Regions from separate parts of the Homo sapiens genome. Here regions 1, 2, 3 and 5 are each linked to region 4. Evidence: fine-mapped expression QTL. A gene starts in region 4. Each other region holds a variant in brackets. All regions are shown on one strand. Distances are between the middles of the regions. Region 1 has its middle 21 kb from the start of LIPC. Region 2 has its middle 32 kb from the start of LIPC. Region 3 overlaps LIPC (lipase C, hepatic type). Region 4 holds the start of LIPC (lipase C, hepatic type). Region 5 has its middle 53 kb from the start of LIPC.

Region 1 (4,120 bases), 21 kb before region 4:
ATTCACTTAATGCAAAGTACCTGGAACATATTCTGTGTAAAATCAAATCGAATAATTTTATATATATTTTCTTTTGAAAAAAATACACGATTAGATTCAAGAAAAATTGAATTTCTGGTACAAAGGAGGAATAAGGACATGGCCTTCCTAATCCAAGAAGCTCCATGAATAACTAGGGGCCTGCTTTCTTTCACACAAGAAAGCTGGGTAGTACTTTCAAAAACCTGAGATGGATGGGGCACAGTGGCTCATGCCTGTAATCTCAGTACTTTGGGAGGCTGAGGCGGGCATATCACTTGAGATCAGGAGTTCGAGACCAGCCTGGCAAACATGGTGAAACCCCATCTCTACCAAAAATACAGAAATTAGCCAGGCATCATGGTGCATGCCTGTAGTCCCAGCTACCTGGGAGCCTGAGGCAGGAGAACTGCTTGAACCTGGGAGGTGGAGGTTGCAGTGAGCCAAGATCGCACCACTGCACACTAGCCTGGGAGACAGAGCAAGACTCTGTCTCAAAAAACAAAAACGAAAACACAACCTGAGATGGACCATGTGAGCAGGTGATACCATCAGGGAGTGCTCAGTGTGTTCTAAAAATCGCAGTGTCTGGCACACAGCAAAAGCTTCACAAATATACACCAAATAAACAAGGAAAATAAGTAAAAAACATTATGCCTGCATGCTAAATAAATTCACAGATAATCTTCAAATTAACCTGGGTAGAAATGATTTAGCAATACTGAGAAAAGTGGATGCTATCAAGGGTGTTAGTTATTTTAATCCTCTTGACAACACTTTTAGATATTTTTATCTCCAGTTGTTTTTCAGATGAGATTGAGGAAGATTAAGTAATTTGTGCAAGACCACATAACGAGCAAGTGAAAGACCCAGGACTTGAGCCCAAGGCTTTCTAATTGTAAAAGTAGAATCTATCCCCTCAGTCTACTCCACTGTTGCCCAAGCTAATGTTAAGAACACAAATCCGGCTGGGCACGATGGCTCATGCCTGTAATCTCAGCACTTTGGGAGGCCGAGGTGGGTGGATCACTTGAGATGAGGAGTTTGAGGCCAGCCTGGCCAACATGGTAGAACACCGTCTCTACTAAAAATACAAAAATTAGCCGGGTGTGGTGGTGTGTGTCTGTAGTCCCAGCTAAGCAGGAGGCTGAGGCAGGAAAATCACTTGAACCTAGGAGGTGGAGGTTGCAGTAAGCCAAGATCGCGCCACTGCACTCCAGCCTGGATGACAGAGTGAGACTCTGTCTCAAAAAAACAAACAAACAAACAGAAAAAGAGACCACAAATCTGAGGCCCCATCCCAGACCCACTGAAGCAGAATCTCTAGGGAGGAACTTAGAAACATTTGTGTAACAAGACACCAGATGATGATTATTATCAGAGAAGTTTAAAAAAAAAAAAAAAAAAAAGACACCTCTATTGCATCAGATGGGAAATGGACCTACAGCATCCTCTGAGGGATCAAATAAAAGCCATCAGATTTGAAGTTCATACAAGTAAAAATAAATCAGGTCAGTCTGGAGCATATCAGATTATGATATTATAGACTATTCTTCAGTTTGGTAATATAGAATTGTCTGATTTAAGGTTTTCTGGATCTTAAAATACCAAGAACATTTGAAAAGTTAAAAATGGGTTCCAATTTAAACCTCAGACTTTTTTTTAGCTTTCCTCACTGCCTCTGATCCTGAGGAGCAGAAGTGAATGTGAACGCACTTTGAATTCCTAGCAGCTTTCACTGATGCAGAGGTTCCAGCTGTACAGGGGCTGGAGGACTGCTGAGGAGAACAACAAGCTGAGAATCAGTCCTCATCTCTGGTTGCCCCCCACCCCACCCTCATTGCCTTTCATTGGATGAGCAAGTCACACAATCCAGGAAGTGGAAAATCTATCATCGCTTGGTTGGTTTTTCTTAGTTTCAGTTTTTCCA[C/T]GCCTGATGAGAATTGCCAAGGCACAGCAAAGCCTGCAGCTTCCATACCCGTCATGAGAGCAAATAACTTATTTGTAAACCTAAGCACTTAATTAACTAAATGGAAAGCAAGGCAGTGAGTGATTCCTGACATGGCCGAATTTAAGTCAAGCTGTGAAGCTCCAGGTGCAGCCAGAAATGGAGATGGACAACTTGAACTGAACCCTGAGAGCTTCTAAAAAGGCTTTGGACCACTGCTTCTCAGCAGTTTTTCTTGTAAGTTATTCCCATTATCTCAAAGAAAAATTTAAAATATGGTTGGAGAAAAGTATAGAACTGATTATCCCCATTTTGAGCATAGATCATCGTTTAACCAACTTGCTTTCTAACTGCCAAGAAACTTGCTTTGGATGGTATTTCCAGACATAATGTCTATCATAGCAAATATTGACAATTGCATTTTACAAATAATCAGTTTAATATGCTTTAATATGCTTCTATTTCTGATTGCTCTTGATCTCATTTAATCTTCGAAGCAACTCTATCACGTTGGTGTGCTTATTAACATTATTTTACAGATAAAGACGCCTGTAAGTAGCTTCCTCACAGGGTATTTAAGGAACTTGTAGAAAGTCCACAGCTAGTAGCTGGGAGCCCATCTCATATCAATACACTAGCTTCTCCCCAAAGAACTTTATATATTTAGGCCATTGATTTCTTTTTTTTTTTTTTTGAGACGGAGTCTCACTCTGTCACCCAGGCTGGAGTGCAGTGGCAACATCTCGGCTCACTGCCACAGCTCCACCTCCCGGGTTCACGCCATTCTCCTGCCTCAGCCTCCCGAGTAGCTGGGACTACAGGCACCCGCCACCAGGCCCGGCTAATTTTTTGTATTTTTAGTAGAGACGGGGTTTTATCGTGTTAGCCAGGATGGTCTTGATCTCCTGACATTGTGATCCGCCCACCTCGGCCTCCCAAAGTGCTGGGATTACAGGCGTGAGCCACCGCGCCCGGCCTTAGGCCATTGATTTCTAAAAAGACAAATTCTCATATTGGATTAAAACATAAGACCCAACAATACGTATGTTGCTTAAAAATAGGAATCTGTTACCCAAAAAATGCAGAAATGCTAAAATAAAAAGGTTTAATGAGGAAACTCATACGACAAAAAGAAAATAGTTGGTAAAGTTGATAGCATATAAAAGAGATTTTGAAGCCAAAAACACAGGGAGAGGATACAAAGAAGCTCCTGATTATGATAAAAAATAGAAAATCAACTGTGAAGACAGAGGTTACTAAAGTCAGAAATGCAAAGAGAAATAGAATAAAAAACAAGCAATTGTAAAGGGAGAGTTTAATTCATTTCAAGGCTAAGAAAAAAATAGACAAGAGTAAAAAATAAAGACAAATTTAAATAGACAAAAATTTAGAAGACATTGAAGACGTGACAAAAATAGACAATAGAGGTTATGTTATACAATTGATAAGTTAGAACCAATAGACATACACTGAACTCAATACCAACATAGATTACACATTTTTTTCCATATGGGGGCATTGGTACATATATACTAACTCTCAAATAAGGCCCTAAAAATTGAATCAAGAGGAAAAAATATACATATTTTCTCACCACATGCAATAAAGCTAAATGTGAATAAGTAAAAGCAATGAAAGGAGCCTTGGGCAAAAGAATAATCTAACCAAGAGCCTTTGCAGCAAACAGTTCGGGGTTTAGATTATAAACTACATTCCTTACTGCAGTGTGACCTGGGCAGTTTACTGAACCTCTCTGAACCTTGGATTCCTCATCTAAAAATGAGGCTCTACCTTGCAAAGTTGTTATGAAGATTACCTATAAGTATGTCAAATAAACTAAGACTTAAAAGAGAGTTAAAACCGTAAGCCGTACAATATAACTCCATTTTTAATGTACTCATATTTAACTAGAAAAAGTATCTAGAGTTTTTGTCGATTGAAAGCAAAAGTCTATAAAATATTCATCTAAATACTAACAGTGGTTATCTCTGTGCACTGATATTTCTGCCAATTTTTGTTATATTGCTTTATCTTTTCTACTATGAATATATAGTATGTGAATAATAAAAAATAGTAAATTTGAAAATAAACATGAACTTCTGAAAAACAGAGTACAAGAAGAAAATAAATATTTACTCTTGGGTGGCCTACAGA
Region 2 (4,120 bases), 32 kb before region 4:
GTGAAACAGACTGAATCCCTATAATGAAGTATTTTTTTGAGCTTAAGCTAAGGCAAGTTGGTTTATGTTACTTGCCATCAAAAGCGTTCTGATATAGCTTCCCTCCCTCCCTCAGTTAACTGAGGGACCCTCCGTCCCACATGCCACTGGAGGCCCTGTGTGACCCTAATGCCCTTCCTGGCCTCCCACTCCACATTTCAGCCACGCTGGACCCCATGTGGCTGTGCCACAGGCCTCCTTACCTTGTGTCTCTGGGCTCTGCTAGCTGCTTTGCCTGAAATGTTCAGCAGCCCACTAATCTCCCTCTCCAGCCTCCCCAGGCAGGTAAAAAATTCCTGGCTGCAGGGGCTGCTTACCTCCCTTGACTTTCAGCCTTGCATGTGATTAAAACACTCTAGACAGAGAGCTGCCTGGGATGCTGGGAACCACTCTTTCTAATCCATGCTAGCCAGAACAGGCTTTGAGCTTACAGAGAGCAGGTCCTCCCAGGGAAGCTGAGGGAGACAAACCTCCTTGCTGCAGCCTGAGATGATGTTGTACTCATTAGGTTTGGCTGCGTTCTTTGTTTATAAGGATTTCTTGTGCACCCAGGTTAAAGGCAGGCAGTGCTCAGCAGCCATGTGCTTACTGAGGAATCAACACCATAGTGCAAAAGTAGATGTGGGGACTTTTTACCTTCTAGGGCACAAGTGAACGGAGAGAGGTTCTCCGGATATGCCTGGGTAAGAGGAAGACCTCACCCCCAAAAGATTGTCTGAAGAGCAGAAAATGTGCACATTTTAATCCCTGAGTTGAAAGGAATGGCAAATAATAACATTACACAGTGCCTACATATAGAGCATACACAGTGCTTCACAAAAGCCCTCTAACATCGGTGGTATTATTATCCCTGACTTAAAGAAAGTGAGGCACAGAGGTTAAGCAACTCGCTGAGGCTACAGAGGGACAAAGCGGGACTCTAGCTGCAAAGCTAGTCGGCCTGGCTCCAGTGACTGCCTCTAAGCCAGTGGTTCTCCATGTGTGCTCCCTAGACCAGCAGCATCAGCGTTACTGAGAAGGCACTTGTTAAATGCAAATTCTTGGGCCGCAACCTAGACCTAACTGAATCAGACACTCTGTTCTCAGAGCCCAGCAGTCTGGGTTTTAACAGGCCCTCTGGGGGACCCTGAGGCACACTCTGCCCCCTCATTACTCAATGCGGGACTCCGTCCGGTGGCATCGGCATTGCCAGGGAGCTTATTAGAAATGCAGACTCTCAGGCTCCACCCCAGACCTCACGAACTGGAATTTGCATTCTACCATCTCCAGGTGATTTGTATGCACATTAAAGTTTAAGAATTAGGCCGGGCACGGTGGCTCACGCCTGTAATCCCAGCACTTTGGGAGGCCGAGGTGGGCAGATCACAAGGTCAGGAGTTTGAGACCAGCCTGGCCAACATAGTGAAACCTCATCTCTACTAAAAATACAAAAAATTAGCCGGGTGTGGTGGCAGGTGCCTGTAATCCCAGCTACTTGGGAGGCTGAGGCAGGAGAATCACTTGAACCCAGAAGGTGGAGGTTGCAGTGAGCCAAGATTGCACCACTGCACTCTAGCCCGGATGACAGTGTGAGACTCTGTCTCAAAAAAAGAATTAAAAAGTACTGCTCTGCACTGTGAGGAGCAAACAGCTGGCATTTAATGCAGTATAATTTTAATCCTGTTTAAAGTCCAGAAGCGGAGGGGAGAGTGGAGAGATCCACTGTGAATTAAATTGACAAAACACAGATTGACAGGAGAAAAGGCATACAAATTGTGTTAGTATTTTTTCATTCTACATGCATGGG[G/A]GCTTCACAGAAAAGAAGTGAGAAACCCAAAGAATCAGTCAGGCCCAGGGTCTTATATATGATTCTAACAAAAGTTGATAAATTGTGGAGAAGTGACTAGACAAAGAAAAGAGGGCTGATAAAGTTTGGGAAATAGGAGTAACAAATTGTGGGAAAGTGATGAGGAAATATATGGGGGAAACTGATGAAAGATCAGGGTTATTTTAATAAGGTCTGTTTATGCAGACTCATCCTGGTGCCAGCTCTTCAATTCCAATGATAAGGGTTGCACACGTTATCGTGGTACAGAAGAGGGGAGGAAATTTATGCTCTGCTTTTAGGCAGATAACAAGAAAGTAGAGAAGTTTTCCTTTATCTGTTGATTCACAATTGCTCAAAATAATCTTTACGCCAAAGTGGCATATTTTGGGGTGGCACATTCTAGACTCCTTCATGAACAAGAAGCAAACAACCAGTATGGCTCACAACGGCAAAAAGGCCCAGCTTTGCAGCTTTCAGTACTACTACCACAGCAGTGAAATTGTCTAGTGGTGATTAGGATAGAAGTCATCATGCCCTATTGGCTCATAATGATCACAGATTTATTTTCCAAATATTTCTGTGCAATATACACTTTTATAAATAATCAATTACCACAGCCCCTTGGAAGACTATCCATATTATGAAATACGAACAACGTAACCTCTAAAATGATGCTGAGGTGGTTTACTTATTAACATGAAAAGTTTCTTGTCTGTGTATTAAGTGGGGGTAAACTCAAGTTACTTCTTACATATTTCTTACAACTAGTTATAGATGGGTATGCAGGCAGACGACAGATTGATAAATGGTATAAATATACAAATACATACAAAGAGAGAACAGGAGAGCCAATAAGATGCTAACACTTGTTATATTTTGGAAGTAAGGGTTATAGCCATGTTTTATTTTCTTCTTTTGGCTTACATTTTCTAAATATTCTTCAATAAACCTACCTTATTTTATGATAATGAAAAAAGTCTTTGCAAAAATCTTATGTAATATTTTAATTCACTCTACTCCTGGTTATATGATTTTTCTCAAAGAACCGTTTCATTCCTGTGTGTCTTTCTATTTTAACCATTTGGAGAGGACATCTCTGTAATGTTTAACAGAGTCCCTGCCCCTGAAATGGTCTGTACTGATCATAATGAACAGTGCTGGTGTCACAGGTTTGTAACTCCAGACTTCATTATTGTACCGTGGTGTCCTCAGGTAATACTGAAGGGCTATAGCGCACTTTGCCTCTCACTCAATGACCCCAGTTTGCTGTGCTCTTAGCTCTTGGATCTTACATCTGCTTAGTTTCAGCATCTTCAGGCAGTCCACATTATCTGTCAAAGCGTCTGCTGTTACATGCTCTCTCCTCTCTTCTAATCTGTGGCTTCCAAGATACTGAATCCTTAGAAATTAGAGGACCTCTATGATTATCACTGAATGTAAAGTAAGAGTAAGTATCTTCCAAGTCGAAGCTCAAGTAACTTTCCCAAGAGGAAGGCATGTGAGCTTTGGTACATGAGCTTCCCTCCGGTCTCAGCTGCACACAGCCTTTTTGGGTTTGTCTTCCGGTTCCTGAGTCTATTCTAAATTGGTGGAGTTGCTGGAGAGCAGAATTCTGAATACCTGAAGTGGCAGTGTTTCTCATGGCAAATAGCTGCTTGATGAAGAAATCGCATGGCTCAGATGCTCTGGACATCTCCCTCCAAGAGAAGGAGGCCGCAGATGGCAAGAACAGAACCAACTGGGGTCCCCTCTACCCCCACCCCATCAAAGTGAGGTTATTTAGGGTTACCACCTGGCTACTAGATTTGCCAGATGGCAAGCCTGAGTAACTGCTCAGAAAGAGAAGAACTGCCCAATCCATTACCCTCGCACAGCAGACACTGTTAATTTAACATGTGGTGGACATCATAGTACACAACATGGGGAATGAGGCGGCATAGAGCCGTCATAAAGGCAGCCATCTGGGATCACGTTGGACAGCCCTGCTCACAGTGGCCATGGGAACAACCCAACTGAGTTTTGTGGGGGCAGGGATGAGGGCAAGGCGTTGGCAATGGGGGATGTGTGGAGAGTTGGGTGGGGGAGGCGGGAAACAGGGCATGTGCCCACCTGTGCCAATGGCCTCAGAACGGAAATGGTTTTGGCCACGGGAAAGCCAGTTGCTTCCGTCTCTGAGACATCACTGACTCCTGCCCAACCTCATCTTATTCTGAGTTTTTCTTCATTATTTTCAATTTTGATGAAAAAGTAATATTTTTCCACCAATTCAGGAAA
Region 3 (4,120 bases), 26 kb after region 4:
CCACCATAGGTTGACTAGTGAGACAAGGGTCCAACAAACATCAGCAAAAGTATTCTGTGAAAATCAATTGCTATTTGGAGTTTACAATAAAGAATACTGTATATTTCATTATTATTTATAAATTGTATAATACCTTGATAGCAATGAAATGCACAATATATGCATGTATGCGTGTATATATATATGAATATATTTTCTTCCAGAGAGCCAGTTGCTGAGTATCCACCAATGCACCACTGCCTGAGGGGTGTCTACATAAAAAGAGACCTAACAGCCCAGAGCAGCACTTGTTAAGGACCCAAGGCATGGTCCAGACCCCAAGGAAGGGAAGGGGGTCAGGGATGGATAGACAATCTGGAAAGTTCTCCAAGGTGGTCTGAGAAGGCTTCATGGGGGACAGAGAGCCGTAAAGCATGGTAGGACTCAATGACAAATGAAGAATGGCTGTACTTCAGACAGGCACACAGCATGAGCGCAGGAGGCGAGGCTGAAGTCAGGGACACCGAGACAAGAGGGTGAGCATAGGGAAGCAGAAGGGAATGAAGTGGGGTCAAATATATGTAATGGCATGGAAACATGCTATGAGATCAAGCCAAAAGAAAAGAAAAAGTAGAATGCAAAATTTTACATTTGCATTAAGGAAAAAACACGTTAGAAGAAAATGCACTTAAATAAATTGCTCTGTGTGATAGTATGATAGCTGATTATGTATTTATCCTCAATGCTTTCTGTACCTTCCTGTTGTTCTGAAGTTGTATTACTTTGATATTCATGGGGAAAAATAAGCTTTTCCAGTATGAAGGGCAAAAAGCACTGAGCCAAACCTGAAGCCATAGCTAAGGACAGGGCACATCTCCCCTGATGCAGCCCAGAGGCCCCTGGAGGGAGGTGCTGGGGGGTGAATAGAGACTAGGGGTGTCACTCCCTCCTAGGAGGACTGCAGGAGCACATGGGTAGCCAATGCTAAGGCCTCCTGCCCCCATGGGCCTAAGTAGCCCTGTCCACACTGGGGATCTGCCCGCTACCTCATAGCCTCAGGTAGATGTCTGGTCTCTCTTTGCAAATGTCCCCCGCAACCCATCACATTCATAAAGGCAACAAATTGGGGAAAACGAGAGGTCCTCTGTCTTTTTAGGGCTTCACCACTGCTGTTTTCCCAACTAAAGAAATATGTACATATGTTTAAGTATACTTTACCATGCGTAGAATGGGAAAAACAGAAGTTATTCTAGAGAACATCTCGCTCAACTCGTTTATTTTACTAATAAGAAAATAGAAACTATGGAGGTCAAGTGGCATACCCAGGGAAACAGAGCTAAGTGAGAACTAGGCTCCAGCAGAGATGATGCCCAGGGCCGGGCACCTCCTTTGTCAGCATGCAGGTATCATCAGACAAGGCCAAAACAGCACTGGGCGATGTGGGCTGAGCAGCCCTTGGCTTCGAAAACATGATTTTTTTATTATTTTTTGAGACGGAGTTTCACTCTTGTTGCCCAGAATGGAGTGCAAAGGTGCGATCTTGGCTCACCACAACCTCCACCTCCCGGGTTCAAGCATTTCTCCTGTCTCAGCCTCCTGAGTAGCTGGGATTACAGGCAGGCACCACCACGCCTGGCTAATTTTTGTATTTTTAGCAGAGACAGGGTTTCTCCACTTTGGTCATGCTGGTCTCAAACTCCCGACCTCAGGTGATCTGCCCGCTTCAGCCTCCCAAAGTGCTGGGATTACAGGCGTGAGCCACCGCGCCCGGCAGACATGACGTATTCTAAGCACTCCTCAAATTTACCTGTGGACAGCAAGAAGGCCTACAAGGCACCCCGTTTACGATATGCCACTTGGCTCCTTCAGGGCAGAGCTGCAGCAGCAGTCCTTGTTTCTCTGTGCCCCACATCCCCTCAGCATGTAAGACCACTTCTGCCCCACCCATTGCTGAATGGGACCTTCAGATGCTATCTTCTCCATAAAGCTTTCTATGACTCAGGCCGCATCATTTTGTGGTCAACTACTTTCACTATTATTGTGTTTATTCTCCCTAAACCAGCCAAGCAATCCCATTTGGTAATCGAAAGAGCAAGTAGCACTGGCTTGGTCATTTCCTTCACATAAACCTGACTGAACTGGATATATGGTAAGGATTTCCATCTTGTACATAAACACTTGTCCACCTCCGTGATTCACACAATTCCTTTTCCACTCTATCCCGGGCCCATGTCTCCATCCTGCCCCTGATGCTGGCTCTGCAGGCATTTTCTACATGGCTGTCTGTGTACATGCC[G/A]TGTGGTTAGTCTTAAATCAAGGGCTCCTAGAGTGCATAGGACATACCAGTTTATACTTTTTCTCATCAGGAATATGTGTAGCTGGAGGATTAAGAAATACATTTTCATGAGCTAGACAATAACAAAAATTAAATGGCAAAAGTCCTTGCTGTCCTTAGTAGCTAGGGAGCTTTAAAAATAAATACATAAGCACCTGTTTCCGTTTTTTTACTCCTACAGAAGCAGGGAAATTGCTGGAGAAAAAAAAAAAATGTAAGTCCATATATTCTGTACTGTGTCCCTTGGAAGAATAAAATTTTAAATGAGGTCATCAGGAAGTGCTTCCTAAATGTGAAGTTCACAGACTGAACTTTGAAGTTTAGCAATGGACTTCCCCTGAGCAAGGTCGGCTTATGCTATTGTTAGACCAGCAGCTGAGCCTCCCCCACCACGTCCTTCTACCTCTTGCAATTAAAGCACAGCCCAGGCAGGTTTTTCTTAAACAGGATTTTTCTTTATGTTGGTGCATATGCTGCTGTTATAATAGCAGGGACATTGTCCTCATTCCCAGCTCTTTCCTCCAAGTCAAAACATTTAGAATGACACCACCCAAAGAATAAGTCTTACTTGAGGCTTTGCAACCTCTAACCCTTCCCACCTCTAACCTTTTCCCATCTTTATCCCCGTTATCTTGGGTGCTTTCAGTTTTCAGAGACCAGCTTTCCAACAGGGCTAAATAACACTCTATGGTTTCTTTCCCCATCAGAAACCAAAGAACTCCCTGTTTCTCAGCCCTTGCCAGCAGAATCTGGTCACCCCTCTGCCCCTCAAAATTACACATCTTATACAACTAGCTCCTGTCCCTGCACCATTCCTGTCCCTTGTCCTTGATCCTGGTTTCCCAGTGGAACAGGAAAAAGGTTTTACAGAGGGTTTTTTGCCACCATCTCTTTGTTCCTCAGGAGATGATTAAGTTGTGCGTTAAGTGGGGAAAAAGTACATTAGGTCAACCCCAAAATCTGCCATCGATAACATCAGAGTATGTCCATGGCTTTATTAGTTTTCTAGTGAATATTTAAGAGAAAAAGGTGCTAGGTCATAGAACATTGAGAAGGCTATACATCTCCCCTTGGCTATAGGTGCAATACATTCCAAGAGGGAGAGATGGTAGTCATGCCTCCTATTTTTTTAGGTGAGGTATGTATTTTGTAGTTCTGCTGGGACAAAAACAGCTTTCAGTCATTGAAAACCAAAGGCCCAGTGGACATCAGGAGGAGATGGCCTCCCTCACTGCAAGACGACCTCTGGGTCAAAGCCTAGTGAAACTTTGGCTTTTCCCAGCAAGCAGGAAGTGACATAGACAGTGTCTTTTTAGAGACCTCACTTTGGAGAATGCTCAGTGAGGGGCAAACATTTGCTGGTGACATTGTAGTTCTGTCCTTTGCTAAGCTTGAGTGAAAATCTTTTGGAGAATCGACTTTTTTCTTTCTTTTTTTTTTTTGATGTCCCTTAGAGAGCTCACAATAAATAAATAAATCAAAACAAAGCTAAAAGTTCATAAAAAAGTCTCAGGCATGGTCCAGATTTTCAGGAAACCAGCAGTTTCTGGAGGAAGTCCCACCCGCTCCTGAAAACAGAAAAAATAAACGAGAGAGAGTCCACCAGCAAACAGGTGTTTAGTCTTCTCTGGAGTCATATTAAGCAATTTTTACATTTATGGAAAAGCAAACACTCCCCCCACATAGGGTGTGGCCCACACTGGGATTGAAAATCAGCCTCGTGCTCTGCACCGTGTTCTGGTGGCTTCTGCAGCTGTCACAGGAAGGAATCCACACCCGTCCCCAAGGACGCCTGCACGGGAACAG
Region 4 (4,120 bases):
GATTCTGCTTAACTGTGCAGGAGCCAGCCAAGTATCCAAGGCAGAAGTCCTTGCTCAGAAATTGTATATCTGATGGGCACGGTGACTCACGCCTGTAATCCCAGCACTTTGGGAGGCCGAGGTGGGTGGATCACAAGGTCAGGAGTTAGAGACCAGCCTGACCAACATGGTAAAACCCCGTCTCTACTAAAAATACAAAAATTAGCCAGGCATGGTGGTGGGCACCTGTAGTCCCACCTACTCTGAAGGCTGAAGCACTAGAATCGCTTGAACCTGGGAGGTGGAAGTTGCAGTGAACCGAGATCGCGCCACTGCACTCCAGCCTGGGCGACAGAGCAAGATTCCATCTCAAAAAAAAAAAAGAAAAAGAAAAAGAAATTGTATATCTGACGGGATGGTCCGCAAGCTTCGGGGCTTGGGAGGAAGGTACAGTCATAGGACAGAACACAGCTTTAGACTGGGTCAAGATCGTCCAAGTCTGGTGGTGGCTTCAGAAGGCCCTTTGAATGAGGCTCGTCCAGGCAATAATTACCATGTTATCTAATTTTGCCCGCTTAACGTTTCCACTTGGATGTCTAAGAGCCATCTCAAAGCCCCACGTGGCCAAGGCTGAATCTCTAATCTTCCCCCAACAGACCTGCTTCACTCACAGCTTCCCCTTCTCAGCTGACAGCAACCCCATTAATCTGCTTGTTCAAGCCAAAAAACCTGGAAGTCATCCTTAACTCCTCTCTTTCTCCCACATCTCACAACTCAGCAGTCAGAAAATCCTGTGGGCTCTACCTTCAAAATATATCCACCACCCATCCACCACTCCGCAGTTGCCCTTTACCATGCTGGGCCACGCCACCATCACCTCTCACTGGGCCACTGTAATAGCCTTCTAACAGATCTCCCCACTGCACCCTGGCTCACTTGCAAACCAGAGTGATATTTTAAAACTATAATACAAATCATATCACCCTTCTGCTCAGAGTCGCCCCCCATGTGTCAATGCATAAAAGTCAAAGTCCTTACAATGTCTCCCCATTCATTGGCCTCCTTGCTATTCCTGGAGCACACCAGGCATACTCCTACCTCAGGGCCTTTGCACAGACTGCCCGAAGCTCTCCTCCCCAAGACGTCCACAGGGGCAACTCCTTCACTTCCTTCAAACCTTTGCTGAAAGTTTAACTTCCCAATGCAATTCACTCTAACCACTCTGCTTAAAATCCCTACCTTCTCCCCAACCCCCTGCTTTTCTTGTAGTGGTTCCCATTACATTCTACCAGTCTACCTAATTTTTTTTTTTTTTTTTTTGAGACGGAGTCTCTCTGTGTCGCCCAGGCTGGAGTACAATGGCGCGATCTCAGTTCACTGCAACCTCCGCCTCCCAGGTTCAAGCGATTCTCCTGCCTCAGCTTCCTGAGTAGCTGGGATTACAGGCACTCACCTCCACGCCCAGCTAACTTTTGTATTTTTAGTACAGATGGGGTTTCACCATGTTGGTCAGGCTGGTCTCGAACTCCTGACCTCGTGATCCGCCCTCCTCGCCTCCCAAAGTGCTGTGATTACAGGAGTGAGCCACCGCTCCTGGCCAGAAATCTCTTCTTTATTATGTCTACTGTCCGTTATCCAACTCCAGAAGGTAAGAACCTCCACTGATACATAAGGACTTGTATACCCCACGTGCCTGCAACAGTGCTTGGCACCTAGTAGGCATACCAAAATATATAAATGTTGAACAAATGAAGAAAGTTAAAGTAAAACTAGAGGTCCAAAAATATCACAAAAGCCATCTATGGTCGCCTTTTCCCTACCTGATTTTGCTGAGTGGCCTTACTTTTCAGTCCTCTACACAGCTGGAACATTAATGAACACAGAGGGGGAAGAAGTGTGTTTACTCTAGGATCACCTCTCAATGGGTCACTTGGCAAGGGCATCTTTGCTTCTTCGTCAGCTCCTTTTGACACGGGGGTGAAGGGTTTTCTGCACCACACTTTGACCACAAGCATCACCAATTTCACTGAACCCAACAGAAATTTGGACCCTCTGGGGGCTCTCTGCGTGGCAGGGCCCTTTTCTTTTTCTTTGGGCTTAGGCTGCAATTTGAAACACCACTTTCCTGAGCCAGCATCCCCCTTGCAGCGCTGTCACAGGGAGGCTTAGGCAGCCACGTGGAAGCCACCTACCCCGACCTTTGGCAGAATTTCCAAACACAACACAGTAGCTTTAAGTTGATTAATTTGGAACTCTGACCTTGGCCCCAAAAGGTAAGAATACATAACAAGGTATTTTATTCTCAAAATGTGTCAGGATAAGAAGCACTTCTGTAAATCGACCTTTTTAAAATAGATATAATTAGATTTGCAGTTGGGGGCAGTAAAGAAAGGGTCTGAACAGTGGATAACATGTTGAGAGGTTAATTATTAATGGGCAGTCTTCCCTAACAAAGTATCTAATAGGCATTGTGGTCTCTTTGGCTTCAGAAATTACCAAGAAAGCCTGGACCCCGGGTGAAACGGAGAAATGGACACAAGTCCCCTGTGTTTCTCCATTCTGTTGGTTTTATGCATCTTTATCCAATCAAGTGCCCTTGGACAAAGCCTGAAACCAGGTAAGAGCCTGACTTTTCTCCAGAGATGGGCATGAACTTTTCTTTTTAAAACGTGTGTCACAAAGAATCCAGGGGTTTCTGACTGTATGGGACAGAGCTTGCTTCAGAGCGTGCCAGGTGGTTCTATACACGACCTCACAGGTTCACAGGGACACGTAGCCGTTTGTAAACAGAAATGAAATTTTAGAAAATCATCCTCGGATTAAAAGTCTTCTAAGAGTGCCTGCAGCTAGCAGTGAAGTCTCTTGCGTATCTGATATGGAAACAGTCATGCTAAAAGTTATTCAGCGGCAAATGATATGAAAGCGATTCAGATCTTCCTGAGAGTTAATGTGGCATCTAATTTGCAACCGGGGAGCCAGGCTTGCAATGAAATGCTCTGTCGGGTTGGGGTTGTCTAATTGCCTGCCTCTCTCAGAAGAGAGGGGAATTTATGAGAGTTCTATTTCCAGTCAGGTCTAAAGTAGAGATATCATTGCACAATTTCTAGACTTTGTTTTGCTGCCAAAATTTTAGTCTGAGGCTGAAGAATCCAACAGCCGTCCTGCCTGTTTTGTTTGTAAATTCACAAACTAGATTGATGGCGAAAGACAGATCAAATGCCTTATCAGGAAGGTAGTAGAGTGGAGCCCAGCTTCCAGGCTAAGCAGTGGACCAATAAATGACGGATCAGTTAATTGAACAATTTGGCCAGACTAGACAGGTGTTTGGGAATTTGTTTTGGTACTGGTTACTGGTCAGGAGCTAGTAACGCTAAGGTAGAGTCTGAGATTTTTCTTTTCTCTAAGACTAGCCTTGGAGAGAGCTCCGACAACTTTGAGAATTAGAAATTCCCTAACGGGATGTACCTAAAAATTTCAGAAGCTTTTTTCCCCTTTAAGAAAAAGGCTGTTCCTTTGTATTTGACTATTTTACTTCATAGGCCAGTTAATAACTGAGTAGCAGTATTAATTATTGCCATTCACTAAGTATTTTCTGTGCCAAGCACTATACTAATTATTTTTGACACATCATCTCATTTATAAAGCCACATCCAAAAATGACCCTTACATAATAATTTAGAGCCATACAGGTAAAATTGCTGGTAATCTTTATTCCCTTGGTTCATAGTGATTTTGCTAAAGGGCCTTTCCTGCCCTTTGCCCCGGAATGTTGTATTTGTTTGTTTACTTTTTAATGAAGTTTATAACACACTTCTAGAAAAGGGCCTCTATCATAAATCCTCAATGAGTTCTCACAAACTGAACCAGTACCCCAAAGCCTTCCTTGTGTGCCCCTTGAGCCTTAACATATATGATTTTTTCCTTTGGGGAGATTTTTCATTAATAGAAACACATCAGTTGCTCTTTTGCGTCTGGCTTCTTTCGTTCGACATTATGTTTGTGAAAGTCAACCATGCAGTTTCGTGGAGTTGAGGCTCATTCATTCTCACTGCTGTAGCATTCCACTGCGGGACCATGCCACACTTCCTTTATCCATTCTACTGTGGATTGGCCAGGACTGTTTTTGCAATGGAGCCATGGG
Region 5 (4,120 bases), 52 kb before region 4:
TGGCTTTGAATATGGAGGAAGAGGCCACAAGCCAAGGAATGTAGCCTAGAGACACTGGAAAAGGCATGAAAATGAATTCTCTCCTACAGCCTCCAAACGAAACACAGCCCTGCTGACACCTTAATTTTAGTCCCAGGAGCCCAATTTGGGACTTCTCACTTCCAGGATTCTAAGAGAATAAATTTGTGTTGTTTTAAGCCATTAAGTTTGTGGTCATTTGTCACAGCAACAATAGGAAGCTAATACACTTTCGTACAGGTCATTTTTCTAATACAGTTCTCAATGCAGCCCTTTAGGACTTCCCTACTTAAAATTGAACCCCTCCCCACTCCCCTTTCCTGCTTTATTTTTCTCTAACACACAATATAGTTAGACTTATTTATCATGCTTATTGTCTCTATCCTTTGTTTAAAACATAAACACACAGCTGGCAGGGTGGCTAATGCCTGTAATCCCAGCACTTTGGGAGGCCAAGGAGGGCAGATCACTTGAGGTCAGGAGTTTGAGACCAGACTGGCCAACATGGCGAAACCCCATCTCTATTAAAAGTACAAAAATTAGCTGGGCGTGGTGGTGGGCGCCTGTAGTCCCAGCTACTCAGGAGGCTGAGGCAGGAGAATCACTTGAACCCAGGAGGCAGAGTTTGCAGTAAGCTGAGATCGCGCCACTGCACCCCAGCCTGGACGACAGAGGAAGGCTCCATCTCAAAGAAAATAATAATTAAAAAATAAAAATAAAACATACATACACAAGGGCAGAAATCATTGCTTCTTTGGAATAGTCCTACCACACAGTAGGTGCTCCATAAAAATTCAGTGAATTAATAACTTAACTTGAATATAGTATTAAGACTAATCCTTTATCCACATAACAGATTCCCTCCACCAAAAAAATTAGCAATTTTGTGGTTATCTCTTTATATTTTCCTCATATAATTTTAGAATCAAACAGAGCCTGCTCCACCCATAATGAAAGTCAAGGAGGAAAGTACATTGGAAATGAGGAATAATTAAAACAACTGTATTAGGCAGGGCTCTCCAGTGAAATAGAACCAATAGGAGATTAGATAGATAGATAGATGATAGGTAGATAGATAGATAGATAGACAGATAGATAGATAGATAGATAGACAGACAGATAGATAGACAGATAGAGTCATGCATCGCTTAACTACAGCACTGTTTTCTGAGAAATGAGTCATGAAGGCAGCTTTGTCATTGTAGGAATGTAACCAAGTACTCCCATTCGTCTAAGAAAAACAGAATGATTTTTTTCTTTTCTTTTCTCCTTTCTCCTTTTCCCCTGTTCCTCACTTCCTACTTAGACCTCCCCATCACCAGACATTCCCTACAGGGCAAGTTCATCTAACTATATGCTTAGGGGCTCCAGAGTGGAACTCTCTCCCGGCTGAAGATTGCCTCGAGAGCAACACTCAATTTACAAGCCTAAGTATGCCCACTACAAAATTCTCTCCCACCTGGAGAGTTTCAGACACTTTTAAAACCTAGTTCTGCCCATGAAGGCGCCAGCTCAATGGCCCAGTAGATAAGGCACTGAAGCGAATTATGTGGACCTCCATCCAATTGCTTTCTCCCCTGCATGCCATTCATGCCAAGC[C/A]CCCTTTTAAAATAATTCCTACTTTCTGCACCTGCTACCCTTAAGACAAGAAGCCTGTACTTCTTCCCCTAAGCTAGCTTTGAAATATAATATATCACTTTTTTTAGAACTAATAAACAAATTTATTAACGTTACAGGATACAAAATCAAGATGCAAAAATCAATGGTGATTTTATACACCAACAACAATCTCATTTATATTAGCAACGAAAAGAAACCACTTAGTAATTAACTTAGCGAAAGAGATGAAAAATTTGTACATTGAAAATTATAAAAGATCGATGGAGGAAATTTAAAAGACACAAATAAATGGGAAGACATCTCATGTTCATAGATTGGAAGAATTTTTTTTAACTTTTAGTTTAATTTCAGGGGTACATGCGCAGGTTTGTTATACAGGTAAATTTGTGTCATGGGAGTTTGTTGTACAGATTATTTTATTACCCCAGTATTAAGCCCAGCATTCACTAGCTATTCTTTCTGATCTTCTCCCTCCTCCCACCCCCACTCTCCAATAAGCCCCAGTGTGTGTTGTTCCCCTCTGTGTGTCCATGTGTTCTCATCATTTAGCTTCCACTTACAAGTGAGAACACATAGTATTTGATTTTTTGTTCCTGCATTAGTTTGCTAAGGATAATGGCCTCTAGCTCTATCCATGTCTCTGGAAAGGGCATGACCTCACTCCTTTTTTATGGCTATATAGTATTCCATGGTGTATATGTACCACATTTCTTTATTCAGTCTACCACTGATAGGCATTTAGGCTGATTCCATGTCTTTGCTATTGTGAATAGTGCTGCAATGAACATACATGTGCATGTGTCTTTATAATAGAATATAAAGCAGTTCCTTTATATCAGACCTCACTCTTGTTAATTGGACTCTGCAAGCAGTGAATGACTGGATCTGCATTTCAGTTACAGGAACAACATAAAGTGTACTTACACAAATTTACACGATACAGTCAAATATACAACTAGGCTATATGATAGAGCCTATCGGTCCTAGGCTAAAAACCCTGTACTGCATGTTACTGTACTGAATACTGACAGCAGTTGTAACACAGTGGTAAGTATTTGTGTATCTAAACATATCTAAACATAGAAAAGCTAAAGTAGTATAATCTTATGGGACCACCATTGTATATGTGATCTATCATTGACCTAAATGTCATTATGCAGAGCATGACAGTATACATATATAAAATAAGGAATTGGTTCACAAGATTATGGGGGCTGAGAAGTCCCGAGATCTGTGGTCAGGCAGCTGGAGACTGAGGAGAGTCAAAGTATAGTTCCAGTTTGAGTCTGAAGGCCTGAGAATCGAGAGAGTAGATGGTGAAAGTTCTAGTCCAAAAACCAGCAGGCTTGAGACCCAAAAACAGCCAATGTTTTAGTCTGAGCCAAAAGGCAGAAAAGACCAGTGTCCCAGCTCAAGCAGTCAGGCAGAAGGAACTTCCTCCTACTTGGCCTTTTTTTTCTATTCAGGTCTTCAACTGATTGGATGAGGCCCAGCCCCATTAGAGAGAGCAATCTGTTTTACTCAGTCTGTCTATCAATTTAAATGTTAGTCCCATCAAAAAACATCCTCTCAGATACACCAGAATAACGTTTAGCCAAAAGTCTAGACACCCAAGGCCCCGTCAGGTTGACACATAAAATTAACCATCACAACCACCAATTTGCATCAATAACATTGGACAAAATGGTTTAGGACATCTAACAAGTGAAATAGAGGAGTTGCTCTGCCCCGACCAAGCCTGAGCCTTGGCTCCACTCCAGCTGGTTCCTGTGCTTGGAGAATAGGAAATCTTTGGAAATATTAGTCAGTTCCCTAGAATATTTAGAAATCCTTGTCCTATAATCAGCCATTTCTCCATAAATACTCCATCAGTTCTCACCTGGATTCCAGACTATATCCACACAGACCATGTATGGGTGAATTCAATAATTCTTTACAAAATAAGTGTCTGATGACTGGGTGCCGTGGCTCATGCCTGTAATCCCAGCACTTTGGGAGGCCAAGGCGGGCAGATCACTTGAGGTCAGGAGTTTGAGACCAGCCTGGCTAACATGGTGAAACTCTGTCTCTACTAAAAATACAAAAATTAGCTGGGGGGCGGCAGGGGGCGGTGGTGTGTCCCCGTAGTCCCAGCTACTCAGGAGGCAGAGGCAGGAGAATCGCTTGAACCTGGAAAGTGTAGGGCGCAGTGAGCCAAGATGGGGCCACTGCACCCCAGCCTGGGTGACAAAGTGAGACTCTGTCTCAAAAGAAAAAAAAAAAGTGTCTGATTGTGATTACTTATTTCATTGTTAAGACAAATGTTCTGGGCTGATCCATCTTTGGCCCAGACTTTCTAGGAACATCAGCTTTTTACTTGTAGCAAAACTATTTACCTGTTTTTGTAGACTAAATTATTCCCTTAACATAGGTAACACAGGCCTGGTCTTGACCCTAGGGAATTTGAACATTTTCCTGAATTATTTCTATGTTCTTATTGATA

Evidence for each region.
Region 1: its variant is fine-mapped to the expression of LIPC in whole blood (TOPMed, PIP above 0.99). The same link has a PIP of 0.9 or more in blood mononuclear cells.
Region 2: its variant is fine-mapped to the expression of LIPC in whole blood (TOPMed, PIP above 0.99).
Region 3: its variant is fine-mapped to the expression of LIPC in nasal epithelium (TOPMed, PIP 0.91).
Region 5: its variant is fine-mapped to the expression of LIPC in thyroid (GTEx, PIP above 0.99).

The regions. Positions count from the first base shown.
Region 1 is chr15:58,408,616-58,412,735 of GRCh38, forward strand. No RefSeq gene overlaps it. Among named protein-coding and RNA genes, the nearest start is that of LIPC, 21 kb to the right of the region's middle. RefSeq lists a silencer at 1,855-2,149. The variant C/T (reference allele first, on the strand shown) is at 1,949.
Region 2 is chr15:58,397,845-58,401,964 of GRCh38, forward strand. No RefSeq gene overlaps it. Among named protein-coding and RNA genes, the nearest start is that of LIPC, 32 kb to the right of the region's middle. The variant G/A (reference allele first, on the strand shown) is at 1,826.
Region 3 is chr15:58,455,658-58,459,777 of GRCh38, forward strand. All of the region lies in intron 1 of LIPC (lipase C, hepatic type), which reads left to right. All of the region lies in intron 2 of LIPC-AS1 (LIPC antisense RNA 1), which reads right to left. Among named protein-coding and RNA genes, the nearest start is that of LIPC, 26 kb to the left of the region's middle. RefSeq lists a silencer at 2,601-2,660. The variant G/A (reference allele first, on the strand shown) is at 2,276.
Region 4 is chr15:58,429,525-58,433,644 of GRCh38, forward strand. It overlaps LIPC (lipase C, hepatic type), which reads left to right and starts at 2,467. Exons shown (of 9, transcript NM_000236.3): 1 at 2,467-2,596. The coding sequence starts at 2,509. RefSeq lists an enhancer at 486-780 and a silencer at 486-780.
Region 5 is chr15:58,377,362-58,381,481 of GRCh38, forward strand. No RefSeq gene overlaps it. Among named protein-coding and RNA genes, the nearest start is that of LIPC, 53 kb to the right of the region's middle. The variant C/A (reference allele first, on the strand shown) is at 1,618.